Homo sapiens: one gene and its partner. The protein of the gene in region 1 interacts with the protein of each later gene in a pairwise test. Each region holds a gene or a part of one and is shown on either strand. Other genes may lie near its edges. The genes, in order: BRD1 and FEZ2.

Evidence for each region.
Region 2: the proteins of BRD1 (region 1) and FEZ2 interact in a two-hybrid assay, tested with the Homo sapiens proteins (one study listed by BioGRID).

What each region holds. Positions count from the first base shown.
Region 1 is NC_000022.11:49,794,984-49,805,144, forward strand, and holds part of BRD1 (bromodomain-containing protein 1), read right to left. Parts: intron 9,378-10,161; coding exon 9,221-9,377; intron 4,137-9,220; coding exon 4,005-4,136; intron 3,704-4,004; coding exon 3,575-3,703; intron 3,135-3,574; coding exon 2,822-3,134; intron 1-2,821. UniProt on the Homo sapiens protein: Scaffold subunit of various histone acetyltransferase (HAT) complexes, such as the MOZ/MORF and HBO1 complexes, that acts as a regulator of hematopoiesis.
Region 2 is NC_000002.12:36,586,065-36,596,225, forward strand, and holds part of FEZ2 (fasciculation and elongation protein zeta-2), read right to left. Parts: intron 4,948-10,161; coding exon 4,839-4,947; intron 1-4,838. UniProt on the Homo sapiens protein: Involved in axonal outgrowth and fasciculation.

The DNA of each region.
Region 1 (10,161 bases):
AGAGCAAGAAGGAGAGAGAAGACAAAAAAAAAAGTAAGACTGCCCAAAAACACATGAACTCTCTTCATCTAGAAACAGGTGTTTTACTGAAAGCATCTGTCTCTTTGGCTGAATAAATAAAGTAGTAGAGAGAAACAAATCAGTCCTTCAAGACTCGTATCCATAACATCACTCTGAACAAATGTCATAGATAATACTCAAAAATGTTCATACAAAAAAACATATCCTTTGAAACCCCAAGAAGAAAGCCTCGAAACGTCTGTTTCTTTCAAAACAGAGACCCACGGCCTCCAGGTCTGTGGCTCAGGCTCCAGGCAATGGGAGGTGTCGGCCGTGCTGAGAAGAGCAGCAGGTGCACCCTCAAGGCACACCATGGCCACTGGCTCACCTGTGCACTCCCAAATACTGAGAAAGAAAGAAACCAGGACTTCTCATCCTTCATTTTCTCCTTAGCAAAAAAACCCGGGTGTAGAAATTCACTTAACAACTTGCATGACCATGATCTGAAAGGCGCTGACACTCAGAGGCCTCCACACCTGCTCTGTTCGAGGGAGGTGGCATGGTGCTGGGAGCATGATGTGGGGGAGCACAGGAGCAGGGCCCTAGGGGCAAAGGAGGCTCCGGGCTGCTAAGAAGACAGGGAGTCCAAGAGTGATGCATCTTCCTGCTTTGAAGGGCAGGCAACCAGCGTACGTCCTGAGCAGCCAGCAGCGGGCACCAGGTGGGCGTCTGAGAGCTGATGGCAGGCAAGGCATCCAAGCCAGAGCGTGATGGCTGTGGGAGGCGGGGGAAGCTTTCCCACGGTCACCAGAGGCTAGAGAAGGACCTTCCAGGACAAGCATGAGCCCATGGAGCCCTGGGCTCACTCTGAGGCGGCTCAGCCCTGGCTCCTCTCAGGTCCCCAAGGGAATGTTTCGGAAAAGGATAGCTGGTCTGATCAGCCTGGAGAGCGCAGCTTCAGAGAGGGGTTAAAGCTCCACCCGGGTTCACCAAGAGCCAGCAGCACTGTTTGGAGCCTGTGTTTATTTTCTAAATTTCTCCAAGAAAAACGTGTTACTCTTAAAATCAGAAAATCAGAGACAAAGAATAAAAATATATTTCCATTGTGTTTTCTTTTTTTTTTTTTTGAGACAGTCTTGCTCTGTCGCCCAGGCTGGAGTGTAGTGGCGTAATCTCGGCTCACTGAGAGCACCGCCTCCCGGATTCACGCCATTCTCCTGCCTCAGCCTCCCGAGTAGCTAGGACTACAGGTGCCCGCCACCATGCCTGGCTAATTTTGTTTTTGTATTTTTAGTACAGACAGGGTTTCACCACATTAGCCAGGATGGTCTCGACCTCCTGACTTCGTGATCCACCCGCCTCGGCCTCTCTCTTTTTTCTTTTTTTTTTTGGAGATAGGGTCTCACTCTGTCACCCAGGCTTCAGTGCAATGGCACAATCTCCGCTCACTGCAGCCTCCACCTCCCAGGTTCAAGCGATTCTCCTGCCTCAGCCTCCGAAATAGCTGGGATTACAGGCATGCGCCACCATGCCCGGCTAATTTTTTGTGTTTGCAGTAGAAACGGGGTTTCTGCATGTTGGCCAGGCCGGTCTCAATCTCCCGACCTCAAGTGATCCACCCGCCTCGGTATCCCAAAGTGCTGGGATTACAGGCATGAGCCACAGAACCTGGCCCTATCCCCAGTCTTTAAAAGAGTACAGCCCATCCTCCAATCCTCACAGGTGCCGAGTGCTGCGGGACCCCACGGGAAGCAGGGAGCCCAGCACTGCTGCCATGAGGGGAACAGAGGGCGAAGCAACGATGGCCCAGCTTGGTTGAATCCCATGATGGCGGGAAGCGGACCCCACGATGGCGGGAACGTGGACCCCGCGATGGCGGGAACGTGGAAGAGAGGAAGAGGGCCAGGCCTCATCCCAGAAGAAGCGACCTAGCACGGGTCAGTGATTCATCAAGAGAAAGGGTAGGCCAAGAAATCAGGGATATGGGACCTTTAGACAAATAAGCCAAACACACCGTGATTTCTGCTCAGTTTGTGGCTCAGAGCTGGAGCTGAGGTGCTGGAGCTCTATGTGCTTTGACAACCCATGTGGGCAGGACACACCCTTCGACAGACAATCCCAGAGGTGCGACTAACAAGCAGGGTGCAGGGGACAGCCCCGGTTTCCGAGGACCAGTCTAGAGAAGGGTGCAGGTGACTACACATGGCTGCAACACGTGCCTGGGCAACCAAGAAGCACAAGCCCAGGCTGGAGTCCAGGTGGGCCGTGGACACACTCCCAGAGCCCTTTCTACAACATGCGCAAACCACGAAGTTAAAGGGCTGGAGGCAAAGCCAGAGATCCTCCGGCTTCACGCCACCCTCAGAAGTTAGCCGAGGCCCACTCTGGATGAAAACCCCCAACTAAGCTGCTTTCTGGGTCTGCATCGTCGAGACCGGCCACCCCATAGGGAGCCACAGCCACACAGTCCTCTTGGTGGGCACCCAAAACGCAGCCAGTCTGAAGTGACAGGTGCTGAGCGTAAAATACACATCAGATGGCAAAGAAGGTGAAAAGCTTATATATCCTCAGTAACGTTTACCGATCCCATGTTGAAATCAACTCTTCCATACACTGAGTAAAATAAGACATATTATTAAAGTAAATTCCACCTGCTTCTTTTCCATTTTTCAGTGAGGCTACTAGAAAATGTAAATGATGTATGCGGTTGCATGCTAGTGGCTCCCGGACCATGCTGATAGGGAGCTGGCAACACAGAGCAGGACAGAGTCTGCTAGAAAGAGCGTCTTCCACCTCCTCCGGACACGGCGCCAGTTCTTACCGTCTTCCCAGGAGAAAGGCCGCCGCGGTGCCGCAGCAGGCCGCTCAGGCAGGTGCATCCCCGAGGCCTCTTCCAAGCCGATGCTGTCCACCTCGCGCCGGGCCTGCCTCAGAACAACACCTCCCTGATCGCGCAGCCTCACCGCGGCTCTATAGAACACGGTGTCCCTGGCATTGTACTTCATGCAGTTATCTATAATGAGATCAAAATCCTCCTCAAACTCATGGAGGTTTTTATACCCTTGAGCTTCTAACCGTTTCCTCATTGTGGCAAAGTCCATGGGATGTTTAATGTGATCCAAATAATCTGGTACCTAATTTTAGGGAGGAAAAAGAATCATTTACAAACTAAAACAGGATATTAGTTGACTCTATATTTATTATTCCATATAACCCACAAGCCCATCCTATCTGAGAGCCACACACAGACACGCAGACGGTACAGACATAAGACCCAAGTACTGCAGGGACCTTCCCGACCCCAGCTCCTTCAGCTAAAGCACGCTGGAGGGTGCCGGGCGGATGCTGCCACAGCCCAGGGTACTGTCTGCACAGGGCCTCTTGCCCACTGCACTTTCAGTATTTTACAATGAAATGTATCACTTTTATAATTTAAAAACAAATACGTTAAATAAAAACGAGAATTAAGAACACAAGGGATGTACTCTAGCCAATCACACGTTTCCCGGTCAAACGGCAGCACAAATCCACAGTCACACATGCGGCAGGACAGACGAGCGCCGCAAACACCCACCTCCTTCAGACTCACGGGCTGCGCAAATATCCTGGCGGGGTCCTTGTCTTGCAGCTGGTCCAGCACTGAGCGCAGCAGCACCGTCAGCGGGGTCAGCCGCAGCTCCATGGCGACCTGCTCCACCTTCACCTGGGGGGGCCCAGCAGAGCCTCAGCTTTAGGGAGCCGCACATGCGTCTCAGCCCCACCACGCGCCCCACAGCCACAAGCAGCCCCCACAGGCTCCTGTGCTTCCGTCCAGGCATAGGACAACGCAGCCTCCACTTAGGGCTCTGCAACCCATGGCAGCCAGGCACCCAGCCTGGGCTGAGCAAGGCACTGCTGTGGGCCAGGACCCACCGGGTGCAGCCCACCCTCTGCAGGAGCTGCCAGCGTCCCACCCACGCCCCGTGGCCAGTGGTGCACTCCACGCGGGACAGGCCCAGCCCCACCTGCTCACGCTTGAGCTTCTCCCGCTTGCGCAGCAGCTCGATCAGCAGGCGAGCGCGCTCCAGGTCGTGCCGCAGCCGCTGCCAGTACTTCAGCTTCTCTTTGGCAGCCTTCATCTCCTCATCATTTTCTCTCTGAGAACAGTGAACACTTCCGTCAGTCAAACCCAGAGGCTCCTTCTGCAAAAGGCCTCAGATACCATGCAGGTGAGACCCCAAGAGGCATCCACGTCAGGGGTCCTGCAGGCCCATCCTGGGGAGGACAACAGACCACCCTCACTAGAGAGCCCCAGGACAGCACCGGGACAGAGGGGACAGAGGAGACAGAGGGGATGGAGGGGACAGAGGGGACCGCCAGGCCAAGGTGAGCAGGGGGCTGGCCCCGGTGCACAGGTTCCACCCTCCAGAGAGGACAGAGGCCTCCGCAAGCTGGCGGCGGGGGGGGCCTTCACAGAACCAGAAAGGCCCACAAAGGCGGGGCCAGGACAGAATGGGGGACCCTTGAGGACCCACCTCCAGGACAGCTGGGAATGGAGGGAGCGGCTGGAAAGAAACCAGGTGCACAGAAAACCACATGCTGGGCCCATCCTGGCTTGGACAGAGCATGACGGGGGCCTGGCACACAGCCGACCTGCTGCCCTGCCCTGCACAGCGCCTCCATCCCGACACACGTTTCCCCACAGCCAGGGTCCCATTTCCATTGATAGCACCTGCTCCCTTCTCAGTGGACAGAAGAGTGCGCCAGACAGCACAGGCCGCCAGCCTCAACCCAGCCAACATCCACACCAGGGTGATCAGAAGAAAATCAGAGCCCTGCAAAGGCCATGACACAGATGGTCGCAGGAGAGTAGGCCACCTGGGTCTGCCCTCAGCCCTGTCCTCACCATGTCCCCCAGGCCTGGCCGCATGAGGCCTGCTCGTCACAGTGCCGGGGCACCCTGACCCTACCTCAAAGGGGAGAGGAAGTCAACGAGGGAGTTGGCCTGAGTGGGCCCCCAACACCTGTCATCCTCCACAGCTGCAGGACACGCGCGCCCTGCCAGCCTCAGGACAGCCGTGGCCATCAGTTTCTGGCACATGCTTCACAGCCCTGAGACCCTCCTCTCCCCCAACGCCTCTGTCCCCGGGTTCCCACCTGCCCACCTCAGGGTACTGTCATAGCTTTTCAAAGGACCGAGGGTGTGAAGGCAAAGACTGCTGGACTACAAGATGCAAGGACCCCGGACTCCAAACTGCTCAGAAAAGGAGGCTCAAGGAGGGAGGCCGAGCCCCGCACCCCCACCCCCAAGGCCAGGCCTCTCCATGGCGAGGCAGAGCGTTGCTGCGCTGATGTCCCCTGAAGTGAGGATCTCTGGGTTTTCCTCAATGCTGCTGAACACCCTCAGGCAGGAAATCGGGGCTAAGAGTAACAAGATCCACATCAACTCAAGCAAAGGCAGGAAAATGTGGGCTCCAAAAACCAAGCTCCCCGGAGCATCTGAGTATTGCCTGTCCCTCAGCTTGCAATCGACACTTCTGAAAACCTCGGCCAAAAGGACATTTGGCCTGGGAATCTGTTACGAAGCGGAAGAAATCTCCTCATCACCAGGAAGCCCTTTATCACGCACTGGCTGCTAAGCAAACTTACTAGTCTGCTCCCCAACCTGGTTTAACAAACGCCATCGGCAGTGGCAGGGGCCCCGTTGACAGCACCTGGGCCCAAGGTCCCATGACACATGCAGCCTCATCCACTCAGAAGGATCAAGGTTCCTTACTCGGCTCTCAAGGGCTCGATATTTCCCATGTAAAAATCAACAGTGGGAGGCTCCACGAGAAAGGACAGAAGTGAAGAAGCACTCAGGCATCCCCACTGCCGGGAAGAAGCTGAGCGCCTCCGCGTCCATTCCAGACACATGGGGGAGACACAGGGCAGGGCTAGGCGACGGTCAGGTTAAAATCGCCTCTGCTGGGAGGACAGGCCAGCTCCTGGGGTGAGGGCCCACAGTGTTACAGAGTGGCCGACCCCAGGCCTCCTGGCAACAGCACCCAGCTCCTGCCACTGGGCCCAATGCCGCCAGCAGGTGCGTGGGACTGGCAGAGGCCACACACGCAGCACAGCAAGGACGATGTGGGCAGCAGCGCCCAGCATGCCACAGGACAGACACTGGGAAAGCTGCAGGATGCGCTCCCAGGACAGGAAGGGTGGGCCACGGGAGCAGGAGACAGTGGGACGCCACCAGCATACACACAAATCGCTGCTCACCCTTTATAAAGCTAAGCTGCCGCCCCCGTTCTCCCTGCGGCCTTCAACGGCCACACACACCAGAACAAAAACCAGGGCCTATATGCGCAGCCAGCACAGACCCGCCATCGCTGCAGCACCCTCGGCGCCTGCTGGCCTCTCAAGAGACCCCGTCCAGTTCATCCACCTGCCCCCACCACAGGGTCAGGCTGGGGCAGGTACACAGAGACACAGAGGAATCAAATGCATCAGGTACTTCCAAAGCTTCAAAACCATGAAACCACACCAAGCCGTGGCCATCCCTGGCCAGGAGAAGGCAGAAGCACAGTCTCTCCCAATAGCCCGTTCACACAGAGGCAGGTTTCCAGGCTCTCCACGCCGACTGCTCTGCTGCGGCTCAAGTCCAGGCAGCTCCTTCTGCTCCTTCCCAGGTGACTTCGAGAAGCTGCCCCCTCTGCCAGAAGAGCTGCTCTGGCCGGGCTGTGGGGATGTTCTCTCCTTACAAACGTATTCTGCACACAACAGGACGTGAGGCCTAACAGGCAGCGATGAAGCAGAGGGGGCCCAGCTGGCAGGTTCCAGCGGGTCACCTCTTCTTTGCAACCCTCCCCCTTCCCTTGCCTGGCTCCACCACGCCCCAGGCCACCCCCAGCTGCCTGGGTCCCCGTGGCCCCTGCCCACTGGCCCACGTGTCCTGCTACTGCAGGGATTCTGGCCCTCGTGTCCCAGCTTATGAGAGTAGAAATGATGATTCCCACCGCTGGACGTCCCGTTTGGCCACATCCATGCCCACTTTCCATGGAATCTGCCCTTCAACAGCTCCTCTGTGACTTACCTGGAGTTCTGTCCAGCCCCGAGATAAGACCCAAGATCTGAACCCTCAACTTCCTCCCAAAAAAGCCTCTCTTCCATTCCCCAACATCGCAGGGGCGGAGACCAATGCCTCCACTCTCTTCCTTTCCCCAACATCGCGGGGGCCGAGACCAATGCCTCCACTCTCTTCCTTTCCCCAACATCGCGGGGGCCGAGACCAATGCCTCCACTCTCTTCCTTTCCCCAACATCGCGGGGGCCGAGACCAATGCCTCCACTCTCTTCCATTCCCCAACATCGCGGGGGCCGAGACCAATGCCTCCACTCTCTTCCTTTCCCCAACATCGCGGGGGCCGAGACCAATGCCTCCACTCTCTTCCTTTCCCCAACATCGCGGGGGCCGAGACCAATGCCTCCACTCTCTTCCTTTCCCCAACATCGCGGGGGCCGAGACCAATGCCTCCACTCTCTTCCATTCCCCAACATCGCAGGGGCCGAGACCAATGCCTCCACTCTCTTCCTTTCCCCAACATCGCGGGGGCCGAGACCAATGCCTCCACTCTCTTCCTTTCCCCAACATCGCGGGGGCCGAGACCAATGCCTCCACTCTCTTCCTTTCCCCAACATCGCGGGGGCCGAGACCAATGCCTCCACTCTCTTCCTTTCCCCAACATCGCGGGGGCCGAGACCAATGCCTCCAGCCCCCAGAGCTTCCCGCCGCTCAGCCACTTCCTGACTCTGGCCTCTTAAGAGCCCCCCAAACCGTGCTGTCCTTTCCAGGAGCCCTGGAGGCTACGAGGTGAGGACAGAGGAGAGATGGAAAGCCAAGTCACATCATGGAACGGAAGATGCGGTTAACTCATTCAACAGCCAAAAGACATTCACTGAAGCCTCAACTCTGTGGACACGTGAGGATCTCACTTGGAGAGGGGCTGGCTCACAGACCTGCCCGGGGAGCCCCAAGTTCCATGGACAGACACACAGTGGGGCAACCCAGGTGGACGGCACGGGAGACCTGGAATATTCCACAGCCAAGACGCACCAAGGCCGTCAGAAAACTTTGGACCCCACCACACCAAATCAGACCCACAAACCACCACCTGCCAGACCAGAGCACCAGACTCTGTAGTTCCCTGGAGCACAAGGCAGCCACGGCAGGTGACTGAACAGGGCTCACGCTGCAGAGGCAGAGTCTGCGAGGCAGAGACAGCACCGGCCACCGCACCACCGCACGGGGACCCAACCGTGAACCCTGTAGACTCAAGCTTCCTGTGAGCAAGTCACCACCTCACAGCAGAGCAGGATGGTTTCGCTTCGTGCCCAGGATGGCAGTGAAAAGCACCATGAGGAAATTCCAAGAGGCACTCAGGCCACGCGACGCCAGCAGCAGACAGCTCTTCCAAAAGACCAGCGGCTCCTCACTAGGCAGCGTGGGCAGAGGGCGCTGGCCGCAGGTCCTGGGCCGTGTGCAGAGCTGCTTGTGTTTTCAATTACTTTTGTGCATCTCACAGAAGCTACTTCACTCTGTAAACCCATTTTTTCAGAACTGTTTCACAGTATCAGATGAGTCTATAAACTCAAACCTACTATCAAAATGTAAGAGTTTGGGTTTGTTCTTTTAAAAAGGAAAAGTCCTGCTCCTTCCCTCCCACTCTCTCAGCTCTCTCGAGCCCTCCCCACCCCACCACAGTCCCAGCTAAACCAACCTTCAGAGCAAGGCCCTCGAAATAAACCACTCCTCACATATTTCCAAAACCCACCCTCCAGGCCCAGCACACAGACCCCCACCCACATGGCCCGGGTGTGCTCACCGGGTCCCACTCCTGCTGTCCCCAGCCCGGACGCTCATGCAGCCACAGCATAACACATCCCTGAGCATCCCCAGTCCCCAGAGCTGGCCACTGCCCATCAGCGTGTGTGCGGGCAGGGCAGGGCGGGGGAGCGCAACTCAAAACGGAAGAAACACCCAGTGACAGGCATGGATGAGAATCACCCCCCGAGTCGCAGATCCAGAGCCCAGTGCACCCGACTCCTCCTACAGCTCCAGGGCTGGACGAGACGGAGGCTTCCCAACGGGGAGCCTGAGCCCAGGGGGCAGCACCGTGACCAGCCTGAACCAGGTGCCCTCTCCCTGGAGGGTGGGGGTGAGAGACGCAGAAAGGCTGTGGGGGCCACGAGCCACGTACCTGCTGTGAGCTTCGCTGAGACTGCAGGCTGGACTGCAGCCGCCGCAGCAGGGGGGCCCCGTTCCTGGACAGCCGCTTGAGCAGCCAGTAGCTGTGGGCTCGCTCCACAAACTGCTTCTTCCGCTGAATGGCCACCTGATTCGCAATCCTATTTAACCTAAAACACAAACACTCAGTGTATCTTTGAAGCAGTACATTAAGATGTTTCATCACATAAACTAGAAATGACAGTACTACTGCTAACAAAACCATGTGTTCATACTTTTTCTCCCTAAGCCATGACACCTGTATTTCTACTATCCCTAGTGCTGCTAAAACAAAATTCACGATCTCCAACCATTTGAAGATTTCATCCACTTTTTAGGTTGGGCACAGTGGCTCCTGCCTGTAATCCCAGCACTTTGGGAGGCCGAGGTGGGGGGATCCCTTGAGGCCAGGAGTTTGAGACCAGCCTGGCCAACATGGTGAAACCCCGTCTCTACCAAAAATACAAAAATATTAGCTGAATGTGGAGGTACATGCGTGTAGTCCCGGCTACTTGGGAGGCTGAGGCAGGAGAATCGCTTAAACCTGGGAGGTGGAGGTTGGTGTGAGCCGAAATCGCACCACTGCACTCCAGCCTGGGTGACAGAGCGAGATTCTGACTCAAAAATAAAATTAAAAAAAAAAGATTTCATCCACTTCTCATTCACTACAACATTTATCAGATTGAATATCCAAAAAGAAAACATGCTGAGCAAAGCCTTCAACAGTTTTCATTCTTTCTATGTGACCCCATCTGCACACAAGCTGACTTCAACCACATCTGTGTCAGCGGGCCCAAAACCTTAGACACTGTCCACTCAGACGCCATGGGAGAGGTGGGCACTGGTCCCCATGTCACCTCCAAGAAGAGAGACAGAGCTCAAGGTATAAGCCGCTAACAGGTGCTGTTTTACCGT
Region 2 (10,161 bases), on another chromosome or scaffold:
TTTAATTTTTTAAAGAAGGAGAAAGATCAAGAGACTAGGCTCTTGATGAGAGGGGATGTATGATTTCTATACTGTAGAAGATGAAAATGTGGCACACTGTGATCACAAAGGCATGTCGATACCATGGAGTAGACCTACCGATTAGTTTCATCGATCCTTACACTTCGAACACTTCACACCCCCTTCCCAATCACTCTTCCTATGTTGCAACTTGAGGACCATGATTTTGTTTTATTTTTCCCCTTCTGGCTTATAAATACTAAAAGTTTTAATTTTAAAATTAATCCGGGGTGGGCACAGTGGCTCATGCCTGTAATCCCAGCACTTTGGGAGGCTGAGGCGGGTGGATTGCTTGAGCTCAGGAGTTTGAGAACAGCCTGGGAAACATGGTGAAACCCCATTGCTACAAAAAATTAGCCAGGCATGATGGCACATGCCTGTAGTCCCAGCTATTCAGGAGGCTGAGGTGGGAGGATCACTTGAGCCCAGGAGGTGGAGGTTGCAGTGAGCCAAGATGGTGCCACTGCGCTCCAGCCTGGACAACAGAGCCAGACCATGTCTCAAAAAAAAAAAAAAAAATTACTCCTAAGGAAGCCCAGGTTGCCATGGCTCACACCTGTAATCCCAACACTTTGGGAGGCCAAGGTGGGAGGATCTCCTGAGGTCAGGACATCAAGACCACCCTGAGCAACACAGGAAGACCTCGTCTCTACAGAAATATATTTTCTTAAAATTAGCCAGGCATGGCGGTACTCGTGTGTAGTCTAGCTACTCAGGAAGCTGGAGCGGGAAGATCGCTTAAGCCCAGGAGTTGGAGGCTGCAGTAAGCTATGATGGCGCCACTGTACTCCAGCCTGGGCAACAGAGGGAGACACTCTCTCAATCTATCAATCAATCAAATTGCTTCTGTGGAAGACATTATCTTTTTCTTATTTCTACTCTTAAAGGTATAAAGATGCATACAAAAGTCCCTGTCCTGAAAGAAATGCACATGGAAGGAGAAATACAGCACAGAAGATGTTCTTAAGCTGAAATGAATGATAAGCATTCTATCATATAAGTATATTCAAGAATGGCACCAGATTTAGAATAGGGTTATGGCCAAAACACATGAGTAATAACAGTAAACTATTATAATAAATTTCCATGACAACAGAAATGATCCCAGATCATCTTTCCAGAGAGAGAGCCAAGTCCATTCCCCACAGAGATGGCATATGCTAAGAGCTGGAATATCTTTCAGGCTTTGCAAACTAGCCCTGGCTGTCATGGGTATCATTATTCACTCCTCCCTTCAGCATTAAATGTGCCTTCTCTTTGCCAAGCATTCCCATCACTCCTTCCAATGCCAGGGTTAGATACAGACCTGGTGGTACTGTTTCCCTGTATAAAACTGAAGATACATCAAATGGAAAAAATGTGCCCACGTAAGAATTTGAAAGATACCAGTTGCCTTACTCTAAAAAAGACATATCAAATTTAGAAGTGTGCCATCTTAATCTTCAATCAAAGAAAAATTTAAAACTGCAATCTAGCAAACTAGTTTTCCTGAATGTTTTTCTCTTTTTAATGCAAAAACCATTCTTCTTTTGTCAAAAAAAATTTCTATACACTTGGTTTTATAAGTAAAATAATCTAAAGAATGCTTTCAAAGGGTAAATTTTACATAGCTTAGTCACGGCACGAACAGAGCACCAGGTGGCAATGGTAAATACAGTCACTTTGCCAGATTAAAAAAAAAATGCTTAATTATATACCATGTAATAGAATGACGTGATGACTTCTTACATAGTCCTTATTGCCCATTTGTTTTTCAGAAACTCAGTGTGTGCTAATCCTCCCTGAGAAACAGAGTTCTGATTTCAATTCTATTCATCACCAGAATAGTCATGTCACAACAGAGAGATGATAGGTGAATGATCACGTGTTCACTTTCATCTGCTGAGTTTTTCCAGGTAAGGCTGTTTTTTTTTTTATTTTTTGAGACAGAGTCTCGCTCTGTCACCCAGGCTGGAGTGCAGTGGCGTGATCTCGGCGCACTGCAACCTCTGCCTCCCAGGTTCAAGCAATTCTCCTGCCTCAGCCTCCCAAGTATCTGGGATTACAGGCATGCGCCACCACGCCTGGCTAATTTTGTATTTTTAGTAGAGACGGGGTTTCACCGTGTTGGTAAGGCTGGTCTCAAACTCCTGACCTTAGGTGATCCATCCACCTCAGCCTCCCAAAGTGCTGGGATTACAGGCATGAGCCACCGCGCCCAGCCAGGTAAGGCTTTTTAATGTCAGTACTAGCATTAAACTCTACGTCATTACTAATCACTGCCTTGGCCATATCATTACCGTGGCATTGAAAATAACATTCAAAAGGCAGCAAAAGGGAGCAACCTCCCAAGATGCAATCTAAGAACAATACAAGACATACAGCAGTCCCTCGGTATCCAAGGGAAATTTGTTCCAGGACACCCCAATAGCAAAATCTGCAGATGCTCAAGTCCCTTATATAAAGTGGGGTAGTATTTGCATATAACCTGTGCACATCCCCCTATAAGCTTTAAATTATATGTAAATTACTTATAATACCTAATACAAGGTAAATGGTTTATAGTTATATTGTATATAACTATACAATATTTATATTATAAAGTTATATTGTATCGGTTTTCGGTTTTTTATTTTCATTATTTTCAATTGTTGTGTTGTTATTTTATTGTGGGGTTTTTTTTTCAAGTTTTTTAATCCACAGTTGGCTAAAGCAGCAGATGTGAAACCAGAGAATATGGTGGGCCCGCTGTACATTTAGTCAATGAAATTGGATTAAACTGTCTCACTCACGCTGCTAATGGGCCTGACTTTGAAACTATGAATGGAAACTCTTCTATGCTATTTTTTAATATGTCAAAAAAGTAGTACCCATGGACTGGTTTTGGTGCATTCTGCATTATTTTAAATAACATAGAAAATATTTTTTTAAAACCTTTCTATCACGATCTCTGGCCCTACAGTTTCACTGACAAGGCTATTCACTTATTCACTCAATAAAAAGGTATCTTCAAACTTACTATGTGCCAGGAACAGTATAGTTACTATAAAGACAAATACAAATACCTGCCGGGAAGTCACAATCTAGTGACAGACCCAGAAACATATGATTAACAAGAGAAGGCAGTGGTAATTTTAGAGACAGGGACAAAGTGATCTGGGGACTAGCACCCATGAGACAGCAAGGCTAAACCCCGTGGCACAGATAACAAGTCCTTTCAAAGTTCACAACCCCACAAGTGCCATCAGTTCCCCTAGAGGGGAGTGTGTTTTCCTTCCGTGCAGGAATTTAGGCCATGGCTAAATGACCATCTGTCAGAGATGCTGGAGGTGAGGATTCCCCCCAAGTGAGAGGCTGGATTAAGTGTCCTTTAAAGCCCCTTCCAACTCTAAAATTGTATAATTCCATGAGATCAGCAAAGGCTAAAACAGTAATAGGAAGCTTCAGAGAGGAAGGGAAACTTGAACTAAGCCCAAAATGATAGCCAGGACCTAAGTAAACAAGACAGAGCAAAAGATCCCTCATTTTATTCCTTTTCATTAAATATATGCCAGGTCAGTCTGCAAAGCTTAATGGGATTAATGACTGGCACAGTCAGGAAGATTTCCATAGCTACTGAATACTGGGAAATACAGCCAGAATTCTACATTTTACTAGAAAATAATAACAGTAGGCTTTTCTGATCACATATGTAAGAAAATCCTTTTAACAAAACATTAACAATACTATGTAAAATAGTGACAGGCCTACTGCACTATATTCTCAATAATCACATAATTACACTTAATGAAATATAGAGCACGCAAGAAGATCTGGCATGAGTTTACATTATTATTTGATAAGGAACTTAAACAGCCAGGCCCTGAAACTTAGATAATTTGGATATGTTTCTCATCAGATTTAAAAAAGCTTAACACTGTGATTTTCCATTTCAAGTAATTCTCAACCCTTTTCTGCCTCCCTACCTGTCCCACCACTCGTGCTCACACTTCTTAGTCAAGACATCTTCACTTTACAATACCAGGATGTACACAGGAGACCCCAAGAAAGGTAAGTTAGCCAAGACCGTATTTTAAAAGCCAAGAACTAAAATATCTTTTAAAGGTTCTCCAGTATTCACAGGAATACACAGTCTCCTGACAACATATCATGTCTAGCAGGTCACTACACTCATTAAAAAGTTAACTCCGTGTTGAGATTCCAATACTCTCAGTATATTAAACCAAAGGCTAGCATTTTTACTGAGGGTTTCAGTGCACCAAATTTTACTGAGTGTTTCAGTGCATCATCACTGCCAGGTGCAGTGGCTCACACCTGTAATCCCAGCACTCTGGGAGGTGAATTACCTGAGGTCAGGAGTTCGAGACCAGCCTGGCCAACACAGCGAAACCCTGTCTCTACTGAAAATACAAAAATTAGCCGGGACTGGTGGCTCATGCCTGTAATCCCAGCTACTCGGGAGTTTGAGGTGGGAGAATCGCTTGAACCCAGGAGGCAGAGGTTGTAGTAAGCCACTGTACTCCAGCCTGGGCAACAGAGTGAGACTCCGTCAAAAAAAAAAAAATTGTGATGGAAATTTAGCTACACATAAAAAATGAGTGTGCTGGAGAAGAACTGGAGGAATGTGCCAGCAAGGTGATGGCCCTACAGCCAAGACATCAAGACAGAGCCACCCAAACTGCTATAATTTCAGAAATGAGAGGCAGGTCAGTGAATCTGTGTTAAGCAGAAATGCTACTGTTTTAGTTCTATTATCAGCATCAGTTATTCAAACACTATTGGTTCAATTCCTAACTTACCCCTTTTTCTGAGAGGTTCAGAGTAAGCAAGTGCAAGGTCCTAGTATGCGATGACTTCCAGTCTACAGGCATCACATTCCCATAATTATCTGTCAGGGCATTCCAAATCCTTAAAAAGAAGAAAGCTACAATCAATGAAAATTAACATTCTGTATGTCTTTCTTAAACAAATATTCAGTGAAAGATGAACAGCAAATGTCAAAGGAAACAGAGAAAAACAGACAGCACATTGTTTCTCAGAAAAACATCAACAAAGTAGAGTCTCCTAAACAAAAACGAGGTGAAAAATCACATAACTGGGCTGACAAGAAGTCCTAAGGGAAGGTGAAGCCGTACAGAAAACTGCCAATAGGCAGTAGGCAACACTTCCATTATATTAGGTGCTAGGCACTGTTCTAAGCAATTTACATGTATTAACTCATGTAATCTTCAAAAACAACATTAGAAGGGGGAACCATTATTAACCTCATTTTACAGATGAAGAAACTGAAACACAGGGCGGGGAAGAAATGTTTCCAGGGTCACATGAATAATAAATACAACTGTGCATTACACTTATTTTTCTTCTGTAACTTCAAACAAACAGACCATTTCAAAAAGTGAAAAATCTCTCTCAAACAAAAGGTTTGTTATCCTTTCTGGAGAAAGAATTCGCTCTCAATGTGAGAACAGGATTTAATATCTAATTTGTAATAAAGAAGCTAAGCACTAAGGCAGATACAACAAAAAGGAGAAAGAGAGGGAGTTCACAATAAAACACACCCAGGCTCTATCCAATGCAGTTACCTGACCTTATTACCCAACAGCATTACAGGGAGGCAAGAGGGTCAAATGGTAAGGGCATTTGACTGAGACTAGGGAAACAAACTCTCATCTCCATCCTTCTTCAAATAACGAGTCATTGGCCAGGCCCCTTAACCTCCCTAGGTATCCTCTGCCCTTCTATAAATGAGAGACCTGGACAAGAAGCAGATACTCCTTCCAGCTCCATTACTCTAAGCATTAATTCAAATGAGGTGTATTGAAGAGAGTCCCAAACCACACCAGATAAGAACACCAAACTCAAATTTCACAACCAAAATTCAGGTTTCAATACCAAAGTAATAATCAGCACAATAAAACATGATGTTTTATGAAAAACTAAAGTTCAGAGATACAAGTGACTTGAAATCTAATTGGGATACGTAAAATCAAACACTAAACATACAAGCTACTTACTAGCTAGAGGTATACACAAAGATGTCATGTAGAAAAAAACACCCTAAAATGTTTATTAGGTATCTAATTGTGAATAAGCAATAGGCTTTCTTTCCAAGTGTGTAAGACACTAGGATACAAAAACAATCCTGGCTGGGGCATAAACATAAGAATGAATTTTTTTTTTAAGTTCCGGGGTACATGGGCAGGATGTGCAGGTTTGTTACACAGGCAAACATGTGCCATGGTGATTTGCTGCACCTATCAACCCATCACCTAGGTATTAAGCCCAAGAATGAAAATTTTAAAATACAGACATAACATAGTTAACAAATAGGGATTGGGCGCTAAAAAGAAGCAATAGGACTGCAACGGCTAAAAGCATAACATCCCAAATGATGTTTGGCTTTAAAATGCACGTTAGGGATGGGCCTGGTGGCTCATGCCTGTAATCCCAGCATTTTGGGAAGCCAAAGTGGGAGGATTGCTTGAAGCCAGGAGTTCAAGACCAGCCTGGGCAACAAAAGGGAGCCCCACATCTCTACAAAAAAAAAAAAAAAAAAAAAATTGGCCAGGCCTGTGGCATGTGCCGCAGTCCCAGCTACTTTTGGAGGGTAAGGCAGGAGGACTGCTTAAGCCCAGGAGCTCAAGGCTGTAGTGAGCTATGATGGCACCACTGTACTCCAGCCTGGGAGACAGAGCAAGACCCTGTCTCTAAAAATATATAAATAAAATAAAAAATAAAATTAGCCTTAATAAAAATGTGAACCCAAAAATCTCTAGAGAACTAACTCATCTACCCAGCAAAGCTCCCATATGCACAGTCCATTCCTATTCTCCTCTCTGTTGGAATATCTCCTCTAATGCCAGTGAAGTAGAATTAGAGGCAATGTCTGTGGACTACTAAATTTGCTGGGTTTCTGTGGACTACTAAACTTGCTGGGTTTCTGGCTCATACCTTCCTGGATAAGAAATTTTCAAACACTGAATGACTGTATAGTCCATTTTCATGCAGCTGATAAAGACATACCCAAGACTGGGACGAAAAAGAGGTTTAATTGGACTTACAGTTCCACATGGCTGAGGAGGCCTCAGAATCATGGTGGGAGACAAAAGGCACTTCTTACATGGTGGCAGCAAGAGAAAAGGAGGAAGATGCAAAAGCAGAAACCCCTGATAAACTCATGGACAGCGGCCCTCTTCTCACAACCCCACTAGGCAGTGCCCCAGTAGGGACTCTGTGTGGGGGCTCCAACCCCACATTTCCCTTCCACACTGCCCTAGCAGAGGTTCTCCATGAGGGCCCTGCCCCTGCAACAAACTTTTGCCTGGGCATCCAGGCATTTCCATACATCTTCTGAATCTAGAAGGAGGTTCCCAAACCTCAATTCTTGACTTCTGTGCACCTGTGGGCTCAACACCACATGGAAGCTGCCAAGGCTTGGGGCTTGCACCCTCTGAAGCCACAGCCTGAGCTGTACTCTCGCCCCTTTCAGCCACAGCTGGAGCAGCTGGTACACAGGGCACCAAGTCCCTAGGCCGCATACAGCAGGCAGACCCTAGGCCCAGCTCACGAAACCACTTGTTCCTTTTTGGGCCTCCAGGCCTGTGATGGGAGGAGCTGCCATGAAGGTCTCTGACATGGCCTGGAGACATTTTCCCCATGGTCGTGGGGATTAACATTAGGGTCCTTGCTACTTACGCAAATTTCTGCAGCTAGCTTGAATTTCTCCCCAGAAAATGGGTTTTTTTTTTTTCTATCGCATAGTCAGGCTGCAAATTTTCCAAACTTTTATGCTCTGCTTCCCTTATAAAACTGAATACGTTTAATAGCACCCAAGTTACCTCCTGAATGCTTTACTGCTTAGAAATTTTTTCTGCCAGATACCCTAACTCATCTCCCTCAAGTTCAAAGTTCCACAAATCTCTAGGGCAGGGGCAAAATGCCACCAGTTCTCTTTGCCAAAACATAACAAGGGTCATCTTTGCTCCAGTTCCCAACAACTTCCTCATCTCCATCTGAGACCACCTCAGCCTGGATTTTATTGTCCATATTGCTGTCAGCATTTTGGGAAAGCCATTCAACAAGTCTCTAGGAAGTTCCAAACTTTCCCACATTTTCCTGTCTTCTGAGCCCTTCAAACTATTCCAATCTCTACCTGTTCCCCAGTTCCAAAGTCATTTCCACATTTTCAGGTATCTTTTCAGCAACGCCCCACTCTACTGGTACTAACTTACTATATTAGGTTATTTTCATGCAGCTGATAAAGACATACCCGAGACTGGGAAGAAAACGAGGTTTAATTGGACTTACAGTTCCACATGGCTGGGGAGGCCTCAGAATCATGGCAGGAGGCAAAAGGCACTTCTTACATGGCGGCAGCAAGGGAAAATGAGGAAGGAGCAAAAGCGGAAACCCCTGATAAGCCCATCAGATCTTGTAAGACTTATTCACTATCATGAGAATAGCATAGGAAAGACCAGCCCCCATGATTCAATTACCTCCCCCTGGATCCCTCCCACAACACGTGGGAATTCTGGGAGATACAATTCAAGTTGAGATTTGGGTGGGGACACAGCCAAACCGTATCACTGACTATAGACCTAATCCTGGCAGGAATTTAAGCAGGATACACTAGCAGGTGAAGACAGTCCAGAATTTGAGGAGTTTGCTTTGTCTGCTGATTTGCTCCTTCTTAAACAAGGCTATAAGAAAAAGGCAAATGGGATGGAATATTTCACTTAGAAGTGCCTGTCAGTGAGTTTGATCTTCCAAGAAAATGAAAGCCAACTAACAGTCTCCACCAAGGTCAAAACAATGGTAGTTGGAAGGACACAGAGGCAACTCTAGTGAAAGATTTCTAGAATTCTGCAGTCAAGACATATGAACTGCCTTCATCTTTATCACCAAGTATTACAACCAGTCGTAAACAACGGTCAGGACAGCTCTTTTGCAAGGAGGTCAAAGTCCTGCCAACATCGAATCCTGCAGAATACTCTTATAAGTAAAACCTCAGTACGTAAATACAATCCATATTTAACCAAAACAAAAGCTGAGGCTCAGAGAAGTTAAATGAAGTGCCAAGGGTCGGGGAGGGCTTTGGGGTGATTCAAGCACATTACATTTACGGTGTACTTTATTTCTATTATTACACTGTCATATATCATGAAATAATTTTACAACTCACCATAACGTAGAATCAATGGGAGCCCTGAGCTTGTTTTCCTGCAACTAGATGGTCCTATCTGGGGGAGAGGGGAAACAGTGACAGATCATCAAGCATTAGATTCTCATAAGGTGTCTGCAAACTAGAACCCTCACTTGTGCAGTTCACAATAGGGTTCACGCTCCTATGAGAATCTAATGCCGTGGCTGATCTGACAGGAGGTGGCTCAGGTGGTAATGCAAGCAATGGGGAGGAGCTGTAAATACAGATGAGGCTTTGCTCACTCACTCAGCCACTCACCTCCTGTAGTGTGGCCCAGTTCCAGTACCGGTCTGTGGACCAGGGGTTGGGGACCCCTTGACCTAAAGCACAGCAATATCTGAGTAAAACAATTATCAATTATATCTAGTGAAAAGGGAACTGGAACAGACTATCAAGCAATGATGAGTATGTTTTTGCAATATAAAAGGGACAATGCCAGTGATGACCAGCTCCCAACTCCCGGAAAAAAAGAGATTTCATATGCATTCCCAAGTCAAGAGACATGCATTACCACCAACATATCATCTACTAAATACCATTAACAAGAGCGACAAAATATTTTTAAGCAAAGGCTAAAATAACCTACTCTCCTGACGGTCTAAGTGAAACAAAAACTCTTAACGATCTACGTACAATCCTCTAATTGATTTAAGTCAGCTACTCTTGAAAAACCCAAATACATAATACATCTACACTAATTTTTAAATCCAGAATGTGTCCTGGGTTTAGTGATTCAGAGTATCTAAATCTACATATACATAAAATTATCTTCTCTTTGGGAACAGGCTTCCAAAAATGTCATCTTTTGCTACTGACGGCATGCATGTGTGTATAAAATCCAATTATAAGTGTTTCCCTTCTCTACACCTGGGCAGAACACTGTACTGAGGAACCAATAAAAGGAGATGGTCTCCAAA